Homo sapiens: one gene and its partners. The protein of the gene in region 1 purifies or fractionates together with the protein of each later gene. This does not show direct contact. Each region holds a gene or a part of one and is shown in the gene's direction. Other genes may lie near its edges.

Region 1 (4,272 bases):
GAACAAAAGTAAAAGTTAAATATTCTCAAGAAAGCACTAGCTGAGCTACACACACACACATACACGCACAACATACCTTTGTGGCATTCTTATAGCTGGGGGACTTAACTGGCTCTGCCCTCTGACTGCTTGCCAGACTTAGAAGAAACCGAGAAAAAGCAGGTAGAAAAATGTTTATGCTCTAATTGCGAGTGTGGTAGCTGGCGTCCCTCAAGTGGAATGTATATGGGCTTCAAGGCTTTTGACCAACTTCACTGGACTTTCTTAGGGTCTTACCTCTTTTATTCGCACTGTGGGTTCAGGTATATTTATAGTATAGTGCTCTGATTCTTGATCATCTCACACCTATTTTGAAGTATTAGCATGAACCACATACAAGAAAGTCAATAGCCAAACCTTTTCCATTCTTCCTACAGCTCTTGAAACTGGCAGCCTTGAGAACCACCCATTTCCCTTACTACCTCTCACCTAAGCCTTTCCTGGTGCACGATGTTAACTTTACACTATGTATATTACTATTTAATGTCGACACCGCTGTCTTTTCATTTCACATCTGTTATGACATTGTGGCTTTCGCCCTTTGCGGTCAGGGACCATAACTCTTTGACATACTGTGTTAACAGGGACTTACTCAGGAACAGCCATTTGGCTGTTCATGGGGTGTAAAATTCACTGCAGTTTTGAAGCTGAGAAAAGATAGCTTGAATCCTTTTGTAAGTTCTTTGGAAAATGGACAGATTCTTTTTTACTGATAACCTATATCATCACCAAAATGGACCTGTCTTATAATTGACTAGACCTGTTAATGAAATGTTACAGACTAATTTGAGAAATAATTATTGGGTGGGAGAAAAGGGCATTTACTAGAAAATCAAGTAAACTTTGTTATCCTCAGGTATTTAATTGGAAGAATTGAGCAAAAAATTTGTTAATGTTTAGATTGATTTATGTTCCTTTTTCTAATCACTGTTTCCTGCTAAAAAAAATAACTGTTTGGCAAACTTTCTGTAACTCTCTATCTTTTCCTGGTTTATGTCTGTTGTCCCAGGCATTCTGATTACATATCCCAATCACAATCCTTTTATATGTTAGTATCTAATGTGATGTGGAAGAATTTGTATGGTTTACTTGAAAATTGCCTATTGTTTATTAAATTCCGACAGCAAGACTCTTCTGCATAAATGTTTTTGGGTCTTAAGATCAGATTTCAAGCTGGTAGTACTTCATTTCCCCTTAAGGGAAAGGATGTGTAAGATATTTATAAATTCAAGCATGCTTAAGGAATTTATTTAAATGGCTGCTAATTCTACTGCATTAGAAGCATGCCATTGATATGTACTGAATTAAATTTAAGGATATATCATCTCAAAGTATATTCTAGTAATCTTTAATTAGTTAAAAGTATCTTTTAATATTGTTAAGTAAAACTCATTAATTGTAGAAATGCTTAGAGATGAGTTTAGGCTACCTACCGATTTTTAAATTAAAACTTAATTTTTTAATCACTATAAATAAATTAGTAAACCTTTTAAAATATAAAGTTTTCTTACAATCACTTTGCGTAATTGAATATCTCATTCTTACCTAGCTAATGCTTTGTGTCTCCTGTCTTTTTGTTTCTGTTTTGGCTTAGTTTATTTCATTGATCTCTAAGCTGTCTTGTGTGGAAGGGAGAAGCTGCATGACTTGCTAGAAGTTTTACATGTGATGGAATTTAACCTCAGTTTATGTCTCTCCCTGCACAGTCCCTTCAGTCTGAATATGTTCATTACTAAGGCCTTGCCACTCCAGTGAAAGCTGTTCTTCTCTTAGACACAATTTCTTCATCTGGACGAGCAGTGGAGAGGGAAAGCAACTTCTTGCTGGAAGAATATCTCTGCCTTCTTACCTTAAATTAAAAAGAGCACTAAGATAACACCTTCAAGAGACTTGAAAACAGAAAACTGGTTAATGACTACTATAAATGCACTGAAACTATGTTTATGGAGATTTCCATACTTTTAAAGACAGTTTTAATGTTGAATTTGGTATTTTGAAGGGTTATTTTTAATGTATTTTGGTAATACATTTATTATTATATTTACATGTACAGTGTTACATTATATATGTATTGTGAACTTTAAAAGACTATTTTGATAAATTTATAAATATATAAAATTATGTAAAAACTACACTATATTTTGATTTAGATTTTCCTGCTGTTTGCTACCAAAAATTTGTATTTTAAATCTGTTTAGTTTTAGTATGGTTTTGTCTCTAATGAATAAATAATTCCTTCTTATTAAGAAGAAGTAAGGGAGAAAGTTTTTAGAAAGTGATTTTTATGCTCGCACTATAAATATGGCAGGTCAGTTCATTCTTTTGGGAAGTCAGTTTAGTTACACTGAGTTTATCCAAGTTTATCTCTACCAAGAGTATAATGGCATGGGATGGCTTATTTAGGACAATTCCCTTTCCTATTGTTTTTGTTGCTGAGCCAATTTGAGTTAGTTTTGCATCCTGGGGGGCTTTAAAATACAGCATGCAGTGAAAGATCAGAATTCACTGAATATTTCTTCTGAGAGCATGGTTTCATGGTTTTTCTCTATGAAATGACTCAATATTCCAAATGTTTTTTTTTCCTTCCTCCTTTCAAAAGAGTTCTTAACCCAATTAGGATATCCTGCTTTGGGTATGAGGTTGTTGTTGCCTGTAATCACACATGGTTTGACATCAGTTTTAAATCAATGGAGAGAAAAAACTGAAAAAGATGCTGCTAAGTAGTTCTCTGTATTAAAGGAGATATTTTTAAAACAGGGTACAACCCCCTGCTGCACACGCTAGCATATCTGGAACCTACTATGAAAATGAAAGGACCCTTATAGGTACTCACAGCCCTTTCATGTAAGTATGATCTGATATTTAGGTCTTCAGAAGCCTGTAGGTTTCATTTCTATGAGGAATCGAGGAGCGTTACATCCTGATATCCTTCCAGGCTGCTTAAGAATGGACTGCTTCGACACTGAAAGTGCTAGTTAAATGGATTCATATGAAGTGCTTTACTCCCAACCATTGAGTTATTTATAATGTATTTATTAGGGGAGGGTACCTTGAGTCTATTATATATGCTTCATCAAAACATCTTGTTCATGTTTTATGTTTTTAAAAAAGGCATTTGAATGAATGTTTGACTCAGGTTTGTTAAATTAACCTTCAGTAACTGCAGTACCAAAAATTACACTCAACTGATGAAAAAAACGAATTGTATGATTTAGGAATCAAAAACTAAAATAAGTGGAATTATGTATCTTTTCTAAAGTTAAAAAAGTAAAATATTTTATTATGAGTTATTATAAAAATTGGTTAATTGTATAGGAAGATGACAGTATTTTTTTCAAGTTATCATAAAAAGTAATTCAGATGACATTTGAGAAGTAGGGGAAAGGGAATCATGTTGACAGTTTTAGTTCTGTGAACACTAATTTGTGTGAAGCTATTAAAATGATTGTAAAGTTGACTACTGTAAATTTCCCATAATTATGTGTGTATATGTGTCATATGTATGTACATGTATATGTCTAAAAATTACTTTACACATGTGCCTACATAGACACACCAAGAAGTGGATGTATATAATATAGAAAGTATATAGCAAAGTAATTTTACTCTGATAATAAAAATTGTTTGACATGTATTTTGTTATGAATAGTTTATCTTCCAAAAGATATTTTGCTCTATTTTAAAGTGTAGAAGAATACACTGCTAATAAATAATAAAAGTTTTATTCAATTTACTTATTTTTTGGTGTTTATAATTTGAATTTTTGAGTTATCAATGTACTGAAGTCTCTTTATAATTTTATTTTTGGTTCAGTGTGGTCAGTGCCTTGAGTGTTTCAAGATCTCTATTCTGGATTTTAGTTTAGCTTTTATTGACTTTCTAGGTTGTGGCCATTGCCTGAAATACATGACAGTGAGCTCACAGAAACCTTATACTTTGAATTTCACAAAAATCATATAATGTTAGGTTCTTGCTTGCTTTCCCTTTATTTTTTTTACTGTCAATAAAATACTGATCCTGATCAGTGTTTTGGGTCCTGCTTAGTCATTTATGACTACTGATGACTATTGTGTGATTGATCACCAGTTCCTTTTGAAAAAGAATGCCATTTTTCCTAAATGAGAAATTATAGAAATCAGTTAGAAGAAACCTCACACCTGTTGGATCTATGCCCTGAAAAGTCAGTTTGGGAGGAAGAAGCTACACTATTTATTGGAGATATTTTATATAGTA
Region 2 (3,500 bases), about 76 Mb from region 1:
GTTGGTTTTCTTGGGAGAATCTCAAGATTTGAAAATCATTGTAGAACTTTTTGAGGCTTTTCATTAAACATTTAAAAATTCTTGTCTCACTTCAGATAATGTTCAGATATGACAACAAGGTCTTACAGGAATTTTTTAAGTCTTCATAAATTCTTTTTGAGAGTAGTCACACCCATTTTTGTAATAGCAGGAAGGCATCTTGGCTGGGCACAGTGGCTTGTGCCTGTAATCCCAACACTTTGGGAGGCTCAGGCAGGAGGATTGCTTGAGGTCAGGAGTTCAAGACTAGCCTGACTAATATAGTGAGACCCCATCTTTATTTAAAAATAATAATAAATTTTTAAAAATTAAAAGAAAAGCATCTTGTATAGACCTTTTTTTGTACGTAAGCTTTTTTCCACTCTTATTCTTTTTTAGTGACAAAACATAAAGGTACTGAGAAAAGAGAATCCCCTTCACCAGCACCGAAGCCTAGAAAAGTAGAGTTATCTGAATCGGGTAAGTTTGTTGTTTTTTTTTGTGATTTTGGTTTGTTTGTTTTTGTTTTTCTTAAAGCTGATTTTGATTTTTTGCACATTTGGTCATCCCCTTCTGCTTGAAGATTAAGTATAGGGTAAGAGCTAAGACTCTGAAGGCAGACAGACTTGGGTGGAATCCCCCATTCCAGAATTTAACTGTTTCTGTTTTAATTAACTTATCTGAGCCTTTCTTCTTTCATCTCCGAAATAGGGACAGTAGAGGTTTTTGACAGTTAACTGTATCTGCTTGTAAAATGCTTGGCACCAGCCTGACCTGTAGTAAATGCCTAAATAAATTTTATTATATTTGGTGAAGATAGTCTAAATCAGCCTGTGAATTGGCATTTTAAACTCTTTTTAAAAAAAATATATAGTAGTTGTATTTTTGATCCAACCAAATGAAGGTTTGAGAGACTATTTTCCTATTCAAATTGCAAATTTTCTATATGCTTAACTAAAGAAACACTTTCTAAATGCATCCATCTTTCAGAAGAAGATAAAGGTGGCAAAATGGCTGCAGCAGATTCTGTGCAGCAGAGACGCCAATACAGACGACAAAACCAGCAGTCTTCATCTGGTATGGATGGTGATGAAAGTTTTTTTTCTACCTGTATTTCCTATTAAAAAATACTTGGTATATAAACATCTGTGTGTGCAGCATGAGTACTTACTTGCCTACATAGAAATCTGTCTGAGGAGGCAGGATTGTTTCTTTTTTTGGTTTTAAGTCCTTTTGCAAAATTTAATTTTCTGTTACATTGTTATAAAAGTAATAGGTCCCTAGGATACAATAGTGAAACAGAAAACAGAAGTATAAAATTGGAAACGTATCATTCTTTTTCCAACCTCCTAAAGCTTTTATTCAGAAATTTTCTGTGCATATAGAAAAAGGAAAAGAAAAAACCCCACAGAAGCTCAACTGTAGATATGTTGCCTCACTTTTTAACTTAACAGTATATTTAGAACATCTTTCCCTATTAAAAATCTAGACTGGGCGCAGTGGCTCACACCTGTAGTCCCAGCACTTTGGGAGGCCGAGGTGAGCAGGCCGAGATCAGGAGTTCAAGACCATCCTGGCCAATAGGGCGAAACCCCATCTCTACGAAAAATACAAAAATTAACCGGGCATAGTGGCGCACACCTGTAATCCCAGTTACTTGGGAGGCCCAGGCAGGAGAATCCCTTGAACCCAGGAGGCAGAGGTTGCAGTGAGTGAGCTGAGATCGCGCCACTGCACTCCAGCCTGGGAGCCTGGGCAACAGAGCAAGGCTTTGTTTCCACAAAAAAAATAATAATAATCTACCCTATTATTTTACTATTTGCATTTTTTATTGTAAGAATATACCAGGCTGGGTATGGTGGCTTAACCTGTAACCCCAACACTTTGGGAGGCTGAGGTAGATGGATCACTTGAGGTCAGGAGTTCGAGACCAGCCTGGCCAACATGGCAAAACCTTGTCTCAACTAAAAATACAAAGATTAGTTAGGCATGATGGTGCAGACCTGTAATCCCAGCTACTCAGGAGGCACAAGCGGTCTTTCTGCCTTGGCCTCCCAAATGCTGGGGTTAAAGGGGTGAGCCACCGTGCCCAGCTCAAACTTCTTAGAGTATGCCATCTTGATTGGATTACACTGTGGAAATTATTTCTATGTCTTATTTAAATAATATGCTTGGCTTTGAAATCATTGATCATATATTGATAATGATTCTGTTCAGAACTGATGGCCTGTATACATGCTTGCTTACCCTAGTGAACACTCCATCCACCTAGATTTCAGAAAACTTGGACAGATTCAAGCACAAACCTAATGTAATATTTTTTTAATTTTGTAATTATAGACTCTGGCTCCTCCTCCTCCTCAGAAGATGAACGACCCAAGAGATCCCATGTGAAGAATGGTGAGGTTGGCAGGCGGCGGAGACATTCCCCTTCCCGGAGTGCTTCTCCATCACCACGAAAGCGCCAAAAAGAGACTTCCCCTCGGTAACATCTTTGCTTCAGTGATGTTCACTGATGTTCTGTAATTGTGATGAAATTTGATAACTTGGGATTATTTGAGAATTTGGTTAACTCCTTCAAGTATTTGGATGTGGTTGGATTTTTGTTTGCTTTTTAGGGTTTCTGTTTTGTTTTGTTTTTGCTTTATTGGTGGTTATTAATAATTAATTTAGAATTGGTAAATTTTAAACCACCATGTCATATATGTGTGCATGATTAGAAAAATAAACCAAACTATTATAGCAGTAACTCCTGAACATCTTTGAATATTTAAAAATGTCTCCATTAATGGTACTTAATCCACCCAAGTAAATAATTTAGTGAATGGAATTCTTGACATTTGTTTTTCTCCACTGCTCTCAGGATGCAGATGGGAAAGCGATGGCAATCGCCAGTGACTAAAAGGTTGGTTAGACACTACTTTGTAAATTAGGGTTACATGTCAAAAATTGTAGTGACTTAATTTCCTATTTAGGTGACCTCATCTCATTCTTAAATATATGGTGGCTGTGGCTGTGAATGTGCAGATCCTAAGTTGTTTTGGTTTGAGTATTTTTTTTAACACATTAGATTAATGATAGGGAGAATTATACATGAGCTATTTGGTTTAGACCCTTATTTGAACTTAGATTTTTAATATCTGGTTGTGCTCTTTTGTGATAATTTGCATCAACTTACATCAAGCAGCACGCAGATTTTTAACAGTATCTGGATACTTTTCCAGAGATAGGATTATTGCTCCTTAGATTTGGGGGGAGGGACTTTGTATTTGTGGTGACATTAGGGAGGGCAAGGAAAAACTAGGGAGAAACTTTAGAAATATTAAAAGTGAGAGGATCACGAGGTCAGGAGATCAAGACCATCCTGGCCAACATGGTGAAACCCCATTTCTACTAAAAATACAAAAATTAGCTGGGAGTGTTGGCGCGTGCCTGTAATCCCAGCTACTCGGAAGGCTGAGGCAGGAGAATCGCTTGAACCC
Region 3 (3,206 bases), on another chromosome or scaffold:
TGGAGCCAGCACTGGCCCTGCCCGGGCCACCGGGCTTGCCACAGCCTCCTGCTCCTCTCTTCCTTCTGCCACTTGGCTCTTCCTCCCGTGGTTCTGCCCTGTCCCTACCCTCTGGGGCCTCCCTTTCCTCAGAGAGTTTCCCCTTCCCAAACCCAATTGCAGGAGTTACGGGCCCTTCTCCTCAGGTCTGGTATATTCTGGAAGTCGGAGTTCTGGGTCGGGTGGTTGGGGCTACAGATTCCTACCCCTGGACTATCCCACCTCCCTGTGCTCGGAGGCTTCTTTCTGGAGAGAGAGTCTGTGCTCGTGCTGTTGAGGGCACTGGTGTCTTCCCTGACCCCACCCCGCCTACCCCAAGGCTGGCTTCTCCTCCCCTTCGCTGTCCTGAGAGATGGGGGTTGGAGGACTGCCACCCTCCGCCCCCGCAGGCCAGGGGCCACGCCTGGCTGCTCCTGCTCCCTCCCGCTCTCCTCTCTGGGCTCAGGGGCTGTCTGCCAGGGTGGCTCTCCTGGGGTGGGGTGCCTCAGCCCCCCCGTGACGCCCGCCTCTGCCCTCTCCACAGACCTCACGTGGTGGGCAGTGGCGGCAACGACAAAGAAAAGGAAGAATTTCGGGAGGCCAAGCCCCGCTCCCTCCGCTTCACGTGGAGTATGAAGACCACGAGCTCCATGGAGCCCAACGAGATGATGCGGGAGATCCGCAAGGTGCTGGACGCGAACAGCTGCCAGAGCGAGCTGCATGAGAAGTACATGCTGCTGTGCATGCACGGCACGCCGGGCCACGAGGACTTCGTGCAGTGGGAGATGGAGGTGTGCAAACTGCCGCGGCTCTCTCTCAACGGGGTTCGATTTAAGCGGATATCGGGCACCTCCATGGCCTTCAAAAACATTGCCTCCAAAATAGCCAACGAGCTGAAGCTTTAACAGGCTGCCAGGAGCGGGGGCGGCGGGGGCGGGCCAGCTGGACGGGCTGCCGGCCGCTGCGCCGCCCCACCTGGGCGAGACTGCAGCGATGGATTGGTGTGTCTCCCCTGCTGGCACTTCTCCCCTCCCTGGCCCTTCTCAGTTTTCTCTTACATGTTTGTGGGGGGTGGGAGATTGTTCTCCAGCACCCCACATTCACCCCTGCCCAGAGATTCCCCCTTCTCCTCTCCCCTACTGGAGGCAAAGGAAGGGGAGGGTGGATGGGGGGGCAGGGCTCCCCCTCGGTACTGCGGTTGCACAGAGTATTTCGCCTAAACCAAGAAATTTTTTATTACCAAAAAGAAAAAAGAAAAAAAAAATCCCAGCGGCCACCTTTCCTCCCTGCCCCATTGGGACAGTCGAGACTGGATCTGTGGGGTTTCCCGGGAGGGTGGCTCAGGGCTGGAACACTCTCAGGCAAGAGTGGTGGAGCTCCCGTCAGGCCCTCCGCCAGGCCCACTGTGGGCTTCTCCCCTCTCCTCCCTCCTTCCCCTCCAAGCAAACCACCAGAGGTGGCCTTCCCCTGACCTCAGGCCCCTGGGCTGGAGGCCTGGGCGGTGGGGCAGGGGGCGGGGGTGCTGCGCAGCCCTGCAGTGGGTGGGGCTGGGGGCTGCTCCGGGGCTGCTGAGGCTGGAGGGCCGGCACAAGGCTCCGCCTCCCTCCACACTGTACCCTCTGCCCCTCCTCCCCAGAGCTGGGCATTTCCTTCCACAAGCTGCTGTGGGGACGTGTGTTCCCTCAAAGTCTGTGCCATCTTCTCCCACCCCTCCCGGGTAGAAGGAGGGGCTGACCCCAGGGCTGGGAGAGGGGAGGGGACTGGAGGGCAGACTGGCTTCTCGGTCCCCAGGGGGCCGCTTGGGCTGTTGGTCTCCAGAGCAGGGCCACTGGGCACTCTGTGATGGGGGAGCCTTTGTCTGAAAGCACAGCCCCCTCGCCCTTCCTCTCCCCATGGCTTCCCCTTCATTGGCATTAATCTGGGCACCAGCTCTCTCCATAGCAGTGACTTCCCTCACCACTCTCATCTCTCAGCCTTGCCTTTTCTTCCTGACACTGTCGCCCCCTCCTCTCAGGAGACACTGCCGAGGGCCACCTGGCAGAAGGCTGAGTTAGGCAGCAGGGCCGGGAGCGTCTGCCCTCCACAGGGTGGGGGACAGATAGGCTAAGCGACTCCCAGCTTGCTACCCTCAGTGGCCAGTGTGGGCGTGGGCGGTTTGGGGCGCTTGGCTGGTGGTGGCCACTGCATCCCTTAATTTATTTCTCTGCTGTTTCTGTTCTTGAGAAATTGGGGGTGGGAGTCCTACACAGAGGCTGCCCCTACCCTCACCTGAGTTGTACATTTTTTTGTGATGGGTTTTATTTTTTATTATTTTATTTTATTTTTTTTTTTTTTGATTTATGATGACTCCACCCCTCTTCATCACCCCCGCTCCCAGGCCAGGCTCAGCGATTAAGCCGAGCCCTTGCGTCCTAGGAAGGGGCCTTGCCAACCTCAGCCCTCCTGCCCCACACTCCTACTGCGGCTCAGACCAAGGGCTCCCCCTCCCTCCCTTCCCCCCTCCTGCCCTATGGAACAGCCCGGGTGCTCTGAGGGGGCTGGGAGGGCATGGCTTGGCTCCCAAAGGGGGTAGGGGCCCGGGGCACCCAGGCAAGGTGGCCCCTCCCCGTCTAGCCCCCTCCTCCCCAACCCTGCACTTAGTTTCTCCTCTGGATCAAACACGTAATAAAGAGAATGTTTGGAATCTGAGCTGCCTCCTCCTGTTTCTTCTCCCAGCCAGGCAGGGACCCAGTCTCCTGTGGGCAAGATGTGGCCTAGCCCACCTGCCTTGCAGGAGAGACTTGATTCCTGTCTGGGGCCAGTGCTGGGTGGGCCCAGCTCCCCACTTACCCACAGGGCACAGACAGGAAGCAAAGCCCAGGGCCCTTGCACCAAAAGGGAAAGAAAACTCAGTAAGCTTAGATTTTATTTTTTTTAATTTTTAAAAAATGTTGAAAAATAAATCCATGTCTGCATAAGTTCCCAACCCCCATTTCTCCAAGTTTCTGGAAGGTGGGCTTGGTGGGCACCCTCAGCTCCTTAGCATTTCCCAGCTGGCCCCTGAAGACAGAGCTTCTCTTCCAGCCTCTGCTGCTGTAAGGCCCCTCTGCCCACCTCCCCCCCTGCAGCCTCCCTCCCCACCTCACCCCAGACTTATTGCTAAAAGAAGGGAAAGAGGAATGAGAACAGCCAGCACACCCAACTGCCCT
Region 4 (3,500 bases), on another chromosome or scaffold:
TTTTTTCTTTTTTTGGTAGAGATGGGGTTTCGCCATGTTGCCCAAGCTGGTCTCAAACTTCTGAGTTCAGGCAGTCTGCCTGCCTCAGCCTCCTAAAGTGCTGGGATTACAGGCGTCGGCCACCACATTGGTACAATGAAATCGATTTTTGTTCCTAAATTCTAGCCTTGACCCAGGGGGATTTTCCCCTCATAGCCTAGGCAGTCATATATTGACTAGTTAATAATATTTTAGAAACAGTTAGTTTTACTAAAATTGTTATACAGTTTTGGAAATGGCATTTTAGGAGCTTCAATTTCTTTTTTTTTTTTTCCTCCCTATAGTTATGAGTTGCAGAAACGAATTGCTGAAATGGAAACTCAAAAGGAAAAAATTCATGAAGATACCAAAGAAATTAATGAGAAGAGCAATATACTATCAAATGAAATGAAAGCTAAGAATAAAGATGTAAAAGATACAGAAAAGTAATAATATTTTGGGAAGTACTAAAAGTATTTAGATAATTGTATTACATGTGTATTTATATATAAAGTTACTTCTAGCACATTGTGAGTGTAAGACATTTGCCAGCATATCAAGTGGTGGCCCCCTTAGTGAAAAAAAAAAACTTGCCTTGCATCCAGTTCCTTGTTACAGATGAAATTCCCTACTCTGAAGTCTTAGAACCGTGGGGATGCTACCCCCTAGTGGCGTAGCACAGTAACAAACAATAAGCATTTGGCTTCACAGTTTAATCTTTTAGTAGTCCACAAATCTGATAGAGGGATAGGATTTGGGTTTTTCTAGATAGATTTTTAAGGGTTTTATCATGTCCCTACTTGATGCCATTTTTCAATGACACTAGTATCTCTAATTATTTTTAAATAAAAAAATTTGTATAGTAAGTTTATTGTATAGTAACTTGTAAGTATATTCGTAAAAGGTAAAACCAAAATTTTACTCCTATGGTAAAATTTTTATATACCTAGACATTGTAGTCACTGGAAAATGTGTTATTTTCCCTCCAACTTAGAAAGGCAAAATAGCTGTCATAATCAAAAATACAGGTGCTTCTTCAACTATGGGGAGAGGGATCATCTTGGAATAAGGAGAGTTTTAGGATCCTGCCTTATTAAGAGCCTGGACATATTTATAGAGGAAGTGTTCCAGGTAGGAAATGTGGTTTTAAAATATGTGCACATTCAAAATAATGACTTACAATATACTTGCTTTGCTAGGAAACTGAATAAAATTACAAAATTTATTGAGGAGAATAAAGAAAAATTTACACAGCTAGATTTGGAAGATGTTCAAGTTAGAGAAAAGTTAAAACATGCCACGAGTAAAGCCAAAAAACTGGAGAAACAACTTCAAAAAGATAAAGAAAAGGTAGGTGTTAGAAAAAAATTCTTAAAATTTCACGTCTGAATATCATACCTAGTTTTCATGGATGTGTTTGCCCCTTATTGCCTAAGAGAATGAATTAGTATTCTAAATGTTGTTTTAAGGTTTGTCTCTGAACATGATTTTACCCCCTCAAGGGAAACCTTGCTTCTACTGACTTTATTTTGCAGGAGGTTTTTTGTTTGGTTTTGGAATTTTGCAGAGATGGGGTCTCAGTCTGTTGTCCAGGCTAGCGTGCAGTGGTATGATTATAGTCTTGAACTCCTGGGCTTAAGAAACCTACCTCAGCCTCCCAAAGTAACGTGGACTACAGGTGTGAGCCATTGCTCCTAGCTTGACTTTGAGTTTTAAAGTTTATATTACAATAATATGTTATTGGGAAAACATTTACCAAATCAGGAGTTCCATTTTGGTGTTAATTTTAATTTTCTTTTTCCTAAAGTAGTAGTTTTTAAAGATATTTAAGTTAGGTATTACAGACTTAAAAATATTGCCTGTCTTCTACAAAAACTAAGCTAACAGGATCAGAGCAGGATTTCCCAAGAATTACCAATGTTGGCCAGGCACAATGGCTTACACCTGTATTCCCAGTGCTTTGGGCGGCCAAAGTTGGAGAATTGCTTGATGCCAGGAGTTTAAGACCAGCCTGGGCAACATAGTAAGATCCCATCTCTACAGAAAATCCAAAATTAGCCAGGCTCAGTGGAACTTGCCTAAAAGTCCTAGCTAGTCAGGAGAGTGAGGCGGCAGGATGCCTTGAGTTCAAGATTCCAGTGAATAGTGATCAAGCCACTGCATCCAGCCTGGGTGACAAAGTGAGACTCTGTGTCTTAAAGAGAGATAGGAAAGCTCATAATTTGGAATCTCTTAAGCTGTGTTCATGTTCATAGCTCTGTCATATTTAAACAGATATGATACCTTAACCCCAGCCCCGCAAAAAAAAAGCTTTGTTCCATATGGTTACACAATAATTATAGATTAGGCTCTACTTTACGCTATAAGCATTTTCTAAATGTATTTGTTCACAAAATACTTTCTGCTTAGCACAGCTGATAAATACGTTGAGTCAGTGTTTAAGGAAGTGGCATTTTGGGAAATGTTGAACTTCACAGGTACTAGATAATCAGAGTAAACAAAATAACAAGGCTTTGGGGGTAACCCCAAAGACTTGACAGACTTAGCTAAGTGTAACTGTTACAGAGTGATTAGCCTTTAGGCATAGACTGCATGGATAAGTGATTATTATCAGAAGATGTTAATGGAGTAAAATATTAGCCCTACATGATGACTCTGGAAGAGTAAAGTTGTGAAAGATTTTAGGGTTGGGGAGATGGTAAAGATAATTTGTGGTAAGTTATGATATACCAGGAAGGATAGTTTAGAAAATTCCGTGTAGTCAGAGCATATTTATAGCTAAAGAAGAATAATTACAACCTGAAATCAGGAGAGAAGGATGACAGACCTGAGGCCCTGCCAGAGACAGTTTTCCTTCATAAGAGGTCAGGTGTTTGTAGAAGTAGTTTTACTATTAGATTGAGAGAATATAGAAATTACAGTGAATAGTCGGGAAAATACTTGTTAAAGCTAGCTAATTTAACTCTGATTATAAAGAAAAGAAGAACTAGAGGACCCTGAGAAATGCCTTTAAATATGTCAAATATTGATAGTATTGGGTAACATAAAGATGTATGCTCCTATAACTTGTTTTATAATCTCAGGTTGAAGAATTTAAAAGTATACCTGCCAAGAGTAACAATATCATTAATGAAACAACAACCAGAAACAATGCCCTCGAGAAGGAAAAAGAGAAAGAAGAAAAAAAATTAAAGGAAGTTATGGATAGCCTTAAACAGGAAACACAAGGGCTTCAGAAAGAAAAAGAAGTAAGTTTTTTTTTTTTATCAGTGTTTATTTTGGTGGCTTTTTTTTTTTTAACTTAAAGATTATTTTTTCAAAAATACTGAAACCTGAACTGGTAAGTTTGGACTTTTAATGTCCAACATTCCTAAAACTAGTCAACCTAGACTTAGATGACTATTCTTTTAATTCCTGCTGACATGTTTTTTAAAAAGTTTACTAAATGAGAGTTTGTAGTAGTAGCAGAAGGTGTGATGTCA
Region 5 (3,500 bases), on another chromosome or scaffold:
TCCCTCTGCCTTCTTGAATGCCTTCTTAATTCTGCTTCACTGGAGTCTACACATTTACCCCACCTCCCATGACCACAGGAGAATGGGGGTCAGGATCTCAATAGCCCACTGTTGTGCCTTGCCTTTTCATTTTATATTTCAAAAAGCATGTAAGAAACTAACGATTGATGTCCTCTTCATTCATAGTCATAGGAGTATTAGTTTATAATATAGCCTTCCAGAAACTTCATGTATACTTGCACACATTTGTAGAAAATGTCATGTATACGTAATCTTTTTCTTTTTATACAATTGCAGCTTTTTTTTTTTTTTTTTTTTGAGCTGGAGTCTTGCTCCGTCGCCAGGCTGGAGTGCAGTGGCGCGATCTGGGCTCACTGCAACCTCCACCTCCCAGGTTCAAGGGACTCTCCTGCCTCGGCTTCCTGAGTAGCTGGGACTACAGGCGCATGCCACCACACCCAGCTAATTTTTGTATTTTTAGTAGAGATGGGGTTCACCATATTGGCCAGGATGGTCTCCCTCTCTTGACCTCATGATCCGCCTGCCTCGGCCTCCCAAAGTGCTGGGATTACAGGCGTGAGCCACCGCACCCGGCCTCTTTTTTCTCGAGATGGGGTCTGTCTCTGTCACCCAGGCTGGAGTCCAGTGGCGTGATATTGGCTCACTGCAACTTCTGCCTCCCAGGTTCAAGCGATCCTCCCACCTCACCCTCCCAAGTAGCTGAGACCACAGGCACATGCCACCATACCCAGCTAATTTTTATATTTTTAGTAGAGACGGGGTTTCGCCATGTTGGCTAGGCTGCTGTCAAACTCCTGGCCTCAAGTGATCCACCCACCTCAGCCTCCCAAAGTGCTGGAATTACAGGTGTGAGCCACTGCACCTGGCCACAGTTACAATTTTAATAATCATTCTGTAGGTTGCTTTTTTAAATTTAGTATATTTTGGACTGCTTTCCATGTGAGTATATATAAATCAATCACAATCTTTTCAGTCACTGCATAGTATTTCGTTATGTGTTTATCCTGTAACTTGTTAGGCCCTTTCTGGTGGATATTTAGCTTGAGTCCAGTTTTTGTTTGCAGATAGAAACCATGGTAGTCCACTTATGCAGGGTTTGTCAGCTTCTAAATCTGAATGGTCTGTTTTCCCCTCTGGAGACAGCTCTTGCAGTCTTTTGTGGGGCTTCAGCCTCTAGGGAACGGGGAAGGAATAGGAGGTGGTATTGGAAGGCTCTGAGCCTCGTGACGTCCGTATGACCGTGATTTTCAGGACTATTCCCAGTGCCACAGGTGTCTTTCTAGCTAACCTAAGGATTTGCGCTGGAGCCTGGCCCTGGCTGGGCTGAGCGAGGGGCATAGAATTGAAAAGACTCCGATTTGATGTTAGGATATGCTTCTGTAATGCACGTCCTCTCTTCTTACTGCACAGCCTTAGAGCCAGGGCCAAGTTAGTGCCATCCCTCATCCCCCTAAACTCTGAGTGAGAATCCAGGATTGAAACCCAGGTTAAAGCTGCCTGCCTTACCTGGCACATTTCCATGCAGGGTAATTATGATCAGTACGTGAAGACGCGGCTAGAGCTGGAGGAGAACCAGATGAAGAGGTTTCACTGGGAGCAAGATCAGATTGCACACATGAAGGTAGGGAGACTGCAGAGTCAGGCTCATGGCCTCCTGTCTGAAAGAAGCAGGGGGCTCGGATGAGGGCATTTCGAGAAGCGGTAGTGATGGAGGATGTCGGGAAGAAGTTACGATCAACATTTTTACCCTGGATTGAAGATGAATTGTTGAGCGCCTGCACATACTCCAAGCTCTCTTTGGTCTTTTTTAGAACTACATTGCGAGGTTTGGTCATGGCAGTGCCAAGCTGGCCCGGCAGGCCCAGAGCAAGGAGAAGACGCTACAGAAAATGATGGCATCAGGACTGACAGAGAGGGTCGTGAGCGATAAGGTGGGGTGTGATTGGGTGGGGTGTGATTGGGTGGGGTTGGGTGGCCTAAGGTGAGGTGGATAAGAAAGGAGCCAACTTGATAAATGCCCTCTTTTCTTCCTAGACACTGTCATTTTATTTCCCACCATGTGGCAAGATCCCTCCACCTGTCATTATGGTGCAAAATGTGAGCTTCAAGTATACAAAAGATGGGGTAAGTTCAGGGCAGGGCATGGGTGGCTGGGGTGTATCTTAGGGTGAGTGGCAGCTCATGGGAGTTGCTCCTGTTCTGTGCTGACCACACCTGCTAGCCCACGTGCTCTGGGGGATTTTCAGGTGTGGCAGCTGGGGTGCCTCATCCAAGGCTGCTCGCGGGCCTTTCTTCGTGTATATGGAAAGAAGACTACTCAGCTGGGTTGGTGGGCGGAGGCAGTGGGCGAGGCGGGGTCTGCTATGAGTGCTTCCTCCCGCTACTCTCCCTTCCTCCTCTCTTGGTGACTGGGAATTCAGCGGGCTTGGTCTGCTGGTCATAGCAGATCTGTATTCTAGCCTTGTGTCCACATCTCTCTCATCCCCACCTCAGCCTTGCATCTACAATAATCTAGAATTTGGAATTGACCTTGACACACGAGTGGCTCTGGTAGGGCCCAATGGAGCAGGGAAGTCAACTCTTCTGAAGCTGCTAACTGGAGAGGTATGGTGCCAAGGTGGGCGTGGATCCCTCTAAGATTAGGCCTTGCGATGGTTAAGGAAGAGGGGAGTGATGCAGGGGCTACTACTTTGGGAGGGCCTGAGTACCCTGGTGGTGAGTGAGCCATCTGGAGGGGTGGAGCAGCAGCCAGGAGAGGGGGAATGTCTGGTTGGACAGTGCTGAGGCTGGGGGCTGTTTTCCTGGGACAGGGATAGGTAGGGAGGAGTCTTAGAGTGTGTGTGTGAATACATGTATGTGTTTAAGCACGTTTCTATTTTCTTTTTTTTTTTTTGAGGTGGAGTCTCGCTCTGTTGCCCAGGCTGGAGTGCAATGTGCGATCTCAGCTCACCGCAACCTTCATCCCCCGAGTTCAAGCAATTCTCCTGCCTCAGCCTCCCAAGTAGCTGGGATTACAGGCACACGCCACAGCTAATTTTTTTGTATTTTAGTAGAGATGGGGTTTCACCATGTTCATTAGGCTGGTCTTGAACTCCTGACCTCATGATCTGCCCACCTCGGCCTCCCAAAGTGCTGGGATTACAGGCGTGAGCCACCGCGTCTGGCCCATGTTTCTATTTTCAATCAGAGCATTTAGAATATAGGAACATCTGTGCATTTAGGGATGCTGCAGGTTCTCAAGTAATGTCATTTCATTAATATTGATGAAAAATAGAAATGATTCCCAGCTGGGGCCACTGTCTTTGTGGAGTTTGCACTTTCCCTTTAACGTCTACATGGGTTTTCTCTGGTACTTCAGTTTCTTCCCAATTCCAAAGCTGCACCTGTCAGGTTACTTGGAACGTCTCAGTGGTTCCAGTCTGAATGAGTGCGGGTGTGTGAGTGCATCCTATAATGGAATGGTGTCCTCTTCAGGGCTG
Region 6 (3,500 bases), on another chromosome or scaffold:
CTCAGTCTCTCTGGTGGGAGAAGATGAGCGGAAGATGCTGAAGGAGATTGTAAAAGCTGCCAAGGCCCCTGTGAAGGCCAGGATACTTCCCCAAGGTGAGCAGGCACCCCTGTGGCAGTGCAGAATGGCTCGGTGGGCGGGGCAAGGACAGAGTGTAATGGCTGAGAGCAGGTACTTTGCAGTTCAGAGCCAGATTTGAATTCCAGCCCTGCTGCTTCCTTGCCGAGTGACCATGTGCAGGTTTCACCTCACCTCTCTGAGCTTGCCTCCTGTGTGTAGAAGGGAATTATGACAGAATTGTAAACACAGTGCCCCATTTAGGTGGAAATTGAGAAGAGAAGGTTGCTTGGGGCAAAATTCTCACTAAACTCCTCTTTCCCTTACTGTTGGTGGTGGGGAAGAGAGAGATCAGTACTCATTCTTTTTGGGTCCTTTCATTGATTTTGTTCCTCTGATCTGTGGGGGTCTTATAAAGCACATCCTCTTTAAAGTCTTTTTTTGTTTTGTTTTGTTCTTGAATTCCTAGGCTCAAGCAATCCACCCACCTTCTGCCTCCCAAAGTGCCGGGATTAACAGTAATGAGCCACCATGCCCAGCCTTAAAAATTTTTAAAGTTATAAAAATAATACATATTTAGCCTGAGCATGGTAGCTCTTGCCTATAACCCAGCACTTTGGGAGGCCAAGGCAGGAGGATTGCTAGAGGCCAGGAGTTCAAGACCAACCTGAGCAATATAGTGAGCTGCCTGTCTCTAAAAAAAAAAAATTAGCTGGGCATGGTGGTGTGTGCCTGTAGTCCCAGCTATTCAGAAGGCTGAGGCAGGAGATCTCTTAAATCCAGGAGGTTGAGGCTGCAGTGAGCTATGATTGTGCCACTGCACTGCAGCCTGGGCAAAAGTGCAAGACCCTGTCTCTAAAAAATGAAATGAAAAGTACGTATTTATTGTTGGAAATTAGTAAATAAAAAAAAATGTAATTCTGTGTCAAAGAGCTCACCACTGGTAGCATTTAGGTGTATGTCTTTTCAAACCATTTTTCCTTTCTTAAATGTCCCTTTTATTTTTTTCATTTTCATTGTCTTCATTTAATCAGCGACTAGTTATTGAGTCCTGCTGTGGGCCTAGTGCTATTGATTCTGTTCTAGGTGCTGGGGATACAGCAGGGAACAAAGCAGAGCTGTGGTTCTGGGAGAAAGAGACAATAAATAAGCTAACAGTAGATGTGATTGAGAACAGCAGGAGGAGACTGCCTCATTAAGCTGTTAAGGAAAGGCCTCTGCACAGCTGGCATTGGAGCTGAGTCCTGGGTGATCGGAATGAGGCAGCCATGAGAGGTCTGAGGGCAAAGTGCTGAGCTGAGAGAACAAGGGTGGAGGCTGTGAGGTAGGAACGAGCTTAGTGTGTGAGAACAAGAGAAAGGTCAGGAGGCTCAGGCGTGGTGAGCAGGGACACACAGAAGATCAGAGCGGTAGGCAGGGGCCACTCTGAGTCTGGGGGATATGAAGCAGAGAAGGCACACATTACAGACACCATTTCCTATGTCAGTAAATGCACAGCTAAATTATTTTCATCAGTTACACAGTATTAGTAGTCACCCTTATTTTATTTTATTTAATTTATTTTTGAGATGGAGTCTTGCTCTGTTGCCAGGCTGGAGTGCAGTGGTGCGATCTCGGCCCATTGCAACCTCTGCGTCCCGGGTTCAAGTGATCCTCCTGCCTCAGCCTCCCAAGTAGCTGGGACTACAGGTGCATGCCACCACGCCCAGCTAATTTTTATATTTTTAGTACAGGTGGGGTTTCACCATGTTGTCCAGGATGGTCTCGATCTCTTGACCTCGTGATCCACCCGCCTTGGCCTCCCAAAGTGCTGGGATTACAGGCTTGAGCCACTGCCTTATTTTGTTTAAGATAAGGTCTTGCTTTGTTGCCCAGGCTGGGGTACAGGGGTGCGATCATAGCTTACTGTTGCCTCGAACTCCTGGGTTCAAGCAGTTCTTCTCCTCAGCCTCCTGAGTAGGTGGGACTACAGGTGTGTGCCACCATGATGGCTAATTTTTTTTTTTTTTTTAGATGGAGTCTCGCTCTTTTGCCCAGGCTGGAGTGTAGTGGTGTCATCTTGGCTTACTGCAGCCTCCGCCTCGTGGGTTCAAGCAGTTCTCCTGCCTCAGCCTTCTGAGTAGTAGCTGGGATTACAGGCGTGTGCCCCCACACCCAGCTGATTTTTGTATTTTTAATAGAGACGGGGTTTCACAGCATTGGCCAAGCTGGTCTCAAACTCCTGACCTCAGGTGATCCACCTGCCTTGGCCTCCCAAAGCGTGGGATTACAGGCATGAGCCACTGTGCCTGGCTTTTTTTTTTTTTTTTTTTTTTTTTGTAGAGACAGAGTCTGGCCACGTTGCCCAGGCTGGCCTCAAATTCCTGGGCTCAAGCAATCCTCCCACCTCAATCTCCCAGAGTGCCGGGTTACAGGTGTGAGCCACCATGCCTGGCCTACCCTTATTTGTAAATCCTTTTTATTTTCTCCCATTGAGATGTCATCCTCAAATTCCGGGACAAGATTGAGAAAATGGAGAAAGATGTGTATGCAGTTCTGCAGCTAGAGGCGGAGGAAAAAGAGATGCAGCAGTCAGAAGCCCAGGTGAGGCTGCGAGGCGGGATCTTGTTCACAAGGCTGCTCAGTAAGCAAGCTGCTGCATCCCTGCTGGTGCTGCCCTTCTGAAATGTTTCTCCCATCAGAGCCCCAGGCATTTGCAGCCCGTGGCTTCCTGTGTTAGTAGATACGGGTTTCACGGCAGGCATCCTTTTGTTATCTCTACAGATCAATACAGCAAAGCGGCTCCTGGAGAAGGGGAAGGAGGCAGTGGTCCAAGAGCCCGAGAGGAGCTGGTTCCAGACCAAAGAAGAGAGGAAGAAGGAGAAAAGTAAGTCAGGGAGGTTCCGCAGAAATCTAAATACAGAATTACCCCACAGGACTCAGCAGTTCCATTTCCTAGTTCTATACTGTAAAGCAGCGGTCCCCAACCTTTCGGCACCAAGGACCAGTATCGTGGAAGACAATGTTTCCACATTTGGGGTGTGGGGGTTGCATTAGATTCTCATAAGGAGTGCACACCCTAGATCCCTCGCATGCGCACTTCACAATAGGGTTAGTGCTCTTATGAGAATCTAATGCTGCTGCTGATCTGACAGGAGGCCAAGCACAGGTGGCAATGCTTGGTTGCCCAATGCTCACGTCCTGCTGTGCAGCCTGGTTCCTAATACGCCATGGACTGGAACCGGTATGCAGCCTGGGGTTGGGGACCACTGTTGTAAAGGATGTAAACAGGGACTCAAACAGATACTTAGATGCCAGTGCTCTTTGAATTACTGTTCATAATAGCAAAAAGGTGGAAACAAACTATGTTCATCAACAAGTGAATGGATAAACAAAATTTGGGGTGTGTGTTTATATACACACAATGGAATATTATTCAGCCATGAAGTTCTGATACATGCCAT
Region 7 (3,500 bases), on another chromosome or scaffold:
ATGCTGCATTATAGTAAATGGAAACTCTTTAAAAACATGCAATGTATTTAATTTCAATGTGAAAAATTTAAATAAATCAGCCCCAAAATTCCAATAAATACATTGATTCTTCTAGGTCAGAGAAGAGGAAATAGAGGAGTTAGATACCTTATTAAGCAATTTTTGTGAACTCTCCACTCCTGGAGGTGTAGAGAATAGTTATGGGAAAATAAACATCTTACTTCAAACTTATATCAGCCGAGGAGAAATGGACAGTTTCTCCCTTATATCAGATTCTGCATATGTTGCACAGGTAAGTATCTTATTCCCTTCCAGTTTTCTCTTCCTTGAATATATTTAGAGGACCAAGGTGTTAATTCATGCTGTGCTATGAATGCATTGCTTTGTGACATGCTACCAAACCACCATTTTACTTAGAACTGTTTCTGCTAATTTGTAAATATTTTATGTAATCTATGCTCATAAAACAGGACTGGGGATGAGATTTGGTGACTGATAGGGCTTTTTTTGGTGATGTTGATGTTTCTTACAAAGTTTTAAAATGATACCTGATTTTTTTCTACTTTAAATGATGAATTTCATTTCTTTTACTTATAAAGTAAAAGAATATAAAGTACTTATAAAGAGAAAAGTTAAAGAATATTGCAAGCATAAAGAAAAGATTGTGGAACTTTTTTAGATTTTTACCAAATATTAGAAATAATAATATTTTTAATCATTAAACAAGGCGTAGTAAACATATTTCCTACCATACGTTCAGTGTGATGTCTCTGGTTTTTACAAAAGTAATCTCTCCTCTCTACTGTTGAAACTTAAACATTGAGGACAGAAAGAAAATTATTCCCTAAACTACAGCTCATTTAATTTATAACTTTTAAAAAATACCATGGTATAAACTGTTCAAATATTTGTGTTTTTATATTCAAGCCCTTATGTGAAGTAAAGTAGGTTATATTTTACCCTATTTATCCTTCAAATGAAAGATTTCCCTTCTAGACATACTTTTTTAAAAAAATTATTTACCTGTCAAGGCTTTTTAATTTTATTTTATTGAGTACTTCCTTTTATAAATTAAGAAGAAATTAAAGCTTAATTTTATTTTAAATATGGAAATGATTCTGCTGTTATATTTGTAATTTTGTTCAAAGAAAGACTAAATATAGAAAAAGAATGTTTGTGTTAAATATATCATTATTAATAGCCATGAGTACTCAGGAGTCCTTTAAACATGGAATATTTACAAACACAAACCAAGACATATTGGTAAACATTTTGAATGCATGTAGTAATTTAATCAATGTAACCAAGATACCAGGTTATATAATTCATAAATTATATAAAGTTAATATAGATGTAGTGAAAATATTTATATATTCTTTAAACCCTATAGCTTCTATAGGAATAATTTTCTAATCTCCTTTGTTTTATCTGTTTTTCTGTAAAGTAATGTAATATTGTCATTTTATATTTTCTAATGATTTTATATTGAAATAGTTAATCATTTAAATAAAAGGTAAAGTTTTACTGGGTTCTGGATGAATAATCTGGCAACATTTCTGCTTGCTTCAAGATTATGAAGATATTATCAGAGACTGACATAAGAATTGCTTACAATGTAAAACTTTAATTCTCTTCATGATTGGTATCCAGGAAGTCAACTTCTGATTAAGGATATCTCAAAGCATCCCTGTTTTTTCTTAAACAGCCATTATGGATTTAGCATCCCTGAATGCATCAGATAAATTATACTTTATTACATTTTAAGTTTAAGCTATCAGTAATTGAACAACTACTCTCTCAACTCTGTAAAATGATATTTTCTTCTATATTTTTTAAACTTTCTCTCCTCAGCCCCTAAGGTAAACCTATAGCTCAAATATTCTAGGATTTTATTTAAAGGCCTATGCTTAACTTTTCTAGACTGTACATGTTATAGACTTATTATTTTGAACCAATTTATATCATTCTAGATTAACATGTCCTGTTTGTATCTTGTCATATGGAATTTCTCCTACTTCTTTTAGCATTGAGGGGATAACTGTAGATCCTGAAATATTAAAATGACATACTTTCAAAGGCAGGAAAATTAGCCTGATAGTTTTTTGTAAGAACAAGTGGGAATGAGGTAGGAAAACCTATTTGGTAGATACAGTAATCAAAATTTTATTTATTATTCTCTGGGCCTTATAAAGACCCATTCAGTCATTTTTAATGGATATCAGAACTGTCCTCATACTTCTATCTACCATTTTGTACTTTAATTTCTAATACTGAAACAAAATAGTCAAATTTATCAAAAGACAGCGCATATCTTATATAAAATGTGAAATGAAAGCCTTTAACTCATCTGTCATTTTTGACTTCATAATTTTAGGCTGGATTGTTTGTCTGCCATTTGAAATCTTTTCAGTTTTGTATCTCTTGTTTGGATTTTAACCAGACTGAACATTCTTTATTTTCAAATACAGATGTTACTGGATTTTGGAAGGTATAAGTTCATTTAAAAAACAATCTTTAATAAAACAATCTGCAAAGTTAATGATAGAGGAGTGGAGGCAAAATAAATGGGAGCTAGCTGTAGAAATGTGAAGAAAAAGACTACATTCATTATAACTTTCTATATGTCTATTAATAAAGTTATCCTCAGACCACTGAGTCTAGAATCTCAGTTATATTTGGAGTCCTTTAGTCCTGGCTTTGAGTAGATGCTCTGACACCAACTAGCAGTGTGACCTTGGTCAAATTTTTTACCTCTTTAAGCCCTAGTATATTCATCTATAAAATCATAATATTAATATCAATTAAATGCAATTTTTGTAAAAGTTAAATGAGGCAATATATGTAAAGCAAGTTAACACATTGTTTGGTTTATAGGAAGCCATTTGTATGGCCCTTTCATATGAGTAGCTACACTAATCAGTATTTCATTTGTCACCCTTCTCTCATTATTTTTTTTCCCTATCAGGATCCCAGTCTTCCTTAATCCTCTAAATAGCCTTGTAAATTTAATCATTCCACTATTCACCAAGAGGCGTCCTTGTCTCTTATAGTCAGATGCCTTAACAGCCTCCTAAATATTTTGCATGCCTTTTGTCTCTTCCTACTTCATTCCTGTTTAGAAGGTAGAGCTTTCTAAGAACTTGGAAATAAGGCTTCCCCTCTGAGAGTAAGCAAGTAGCATCCACATATAAAGGATAGGATTATTCTTATGTAGAAATAATAAGATAATTAGGATTATATGAGAAAAGATATTGCCCCACAATTCAAGGATGCAGCTTGACTTGCACTTCTTTTCAGACTGAGTTTGAATAATAGATTTATTGACAAATTTAAAAGCACATTGGGTATAACCACCAATCTCCTCCTATAATTTTTTAGAATGCAGCTAGAATTGTCCGTGCTCTTTTTGAAATTGCTCTGAGGAAACGTTGGCCTACCATGACCTACAGGCTCCTGAATCTTAGTAAAGTCATTGACAAGAGGCTTTGGGGTTGGGCTAG

What was found.
Region 2: the proteins of CDC14A (region 1) and SRRM1 purify together in Homo sapiens (affinity purification with mass spectrometry, with the first as the bait; one large-scale study listed by BioGRID). This does not show direct contact.
Region 3: the proteins of CDC14A (region 1) and MARK2 purify together in Homo sapiens (affinity purification with mass spectrometry, with the first as the bait; one large-scale study listed by BioGRID). This does not show direct contact.
Region 4: the proteins of CDC14A (region 1) and SMC4 purify together in Homo sapiens (affinity purification with mass spectrometry, with the first as the bait; one large-scale study listed by BioGRID). This does not show direct contact.
Region 5: the proteins of CDC14A (region 1) and ABCF2 purify together in Homo sapiens (affinity purification with mass spectrometry, with the first as the bait; one large-scale study listed by BioGRID). This does not show direct contact.
Region 6: the proteins of CDC14A (region 1) and DDX27 purify together in Homo sapiens (affinity purification with mass spectrometry, with the first as the bait; one large-scale study listed by BioGRID). This does not show direct contact.
Region 7: the proteins of CDC14A (region 1) and ASCC3 purify together in Homo sapiens (affinity purification with mass spectrometry, with the first as the bait; one large-scale study listed by BioGRID). This does not show direct contact.

What each region holds. Positions count from the first base shown.
Region 1 is NC_000001.11:100,516,506-100,520,777, forward strand, and holds the end of CDC14A (dual specificity protein phosphatase CDC14A), read left to right. Parts: intron 1-1,745; coding exon 1,746-1,775; 3' UTR 1,776-3,772; downstream 3,773-4,272. UniProt on the Homo sapiens protein: Dual-specificity phosphatase. Required for centrosome separation and productive cytokinesis during cell division. Dephosphorylates SIRT2 around early anaphase.
Region 2 is NC_000001.11:24,660,302-24,663,801, forward strand, and holds part of SRRM1 (serine/arginine repetitive matrix protein 1), read left to right. Parts: intron 1-417; coding exon 418-498; intron 499-1,008; coding exon 1,009-1,095; intron 1,096-2,358; coding exon 2,359-2,503; intron 2,504-2,881; coding exon of another isoform or gene 2,882-2,923; intron 2,924-3,500. UniProt on the Homo sapiens protein: Part of pre- and post-splicing multiprotein mRNP complexes. As a component of the minor spliceosome, involved in the splicing of U12-type introns in pre-mRNAs. Involved in numerous pre-mRNA processing events.
Region 3 is NC_000011.10:63,908,315-63,911,520, forward strand, and holds the end of MARK2 (serine/threonine-protein kinase MARK2), read left to right. Parts: intron 1-562; coding exon 563-923; 3' UTR 924-2,706; downstream 2,707-3,206. UniProt on the Homo sapiens protein: Serine/threonine-protein kinase. Involved in cell polarity and microtubule dynamics regulation. Phosphorylates CRTC2/TORC2, DCX, HDAC7, KIF13B, MAP2, MAP4 and RAB11FIP2. Phosphorylates the microtubule-associated protein MAPT/TAU.
Region 4 is NC_000003.12:160,413,150-160,416,649, forward strand, and holds part of SMC4 (structural maintenance of chromosomes protein 4), read left to right. Parts: intron 1-323; coding exon 324-464; intron 465-1,217; coding exon 1,218-1,368; intron 1,369-3,101; coding exon 3,102-3,266; intron 3,267-3,500. UniProt on the Homo sapiens protein: Central component of the condensin complex, a complex required for conversion of interphase chromatin into mitotic-like condense chromosomes.
Region 5 is NC_000007.14:151,217,206-151,220,705, reverse strand, and holds part of ABCF2 (ATP-binding cassette sub-family F member 2), read left to right. Parts: intron 1-1,546; coding exon 1,547-1,642; intron 1,643-1,832; coding exon 1,833-1,952; intron 1,953-2,055; coding exon 2,056-2,145; intron 2,146-2,514; coding exon 2,515-2,625; intron 2,626-3,500. Other genes in the region: ABCF2-H2BK1 (ABCF2-H2B protein), read left to right, coding at 1,547-1,642, 1,833-1,952, 2,056-2,145, 2,515-2,625.
Region 6 is NC_000020.11:49,236,416-49,239,915, forward strand, and holds part of DDX27 (probable ATP-dependent RNA helicase DDX27), read left to right. Parts: coding exon 1-95; intron 96-2,533; coding exon 2,534-2,640; intron 2,641-2,820; coding exon 2,821-2,923; intron 2,924-3,500. UniProt on the Homo sapiens protein: Probable ATP-dependent RNA helicase. Component of the nucleolar ribosomal RNA (rRNA) processing machinery that regulates 3' end formation of ribosomal 47S rRNA.
Region 7 is NC_000006.12:100,647,330-100,650,829, reverse strand, and holds part of ASCC3 (activating signal cointegrator 1 complex subunit 3), read left to right. Parts: intron 1-115; coding exon 116-292; intron 293-3,378; coding exon 3,379-3,500. UniProt on the Homo sapiens protein: ATPase involved both in DNA repair and rescue of stalled ribosomes. 3'-5' DNA helicase involved in repair of alkylated DNA: promotes DNA unwinding to generate single-stranded substrate needed for ALKBH3, enabling ALKBH3 to process alkylated N3-methylcytosine (3mC) within double-stranded regions.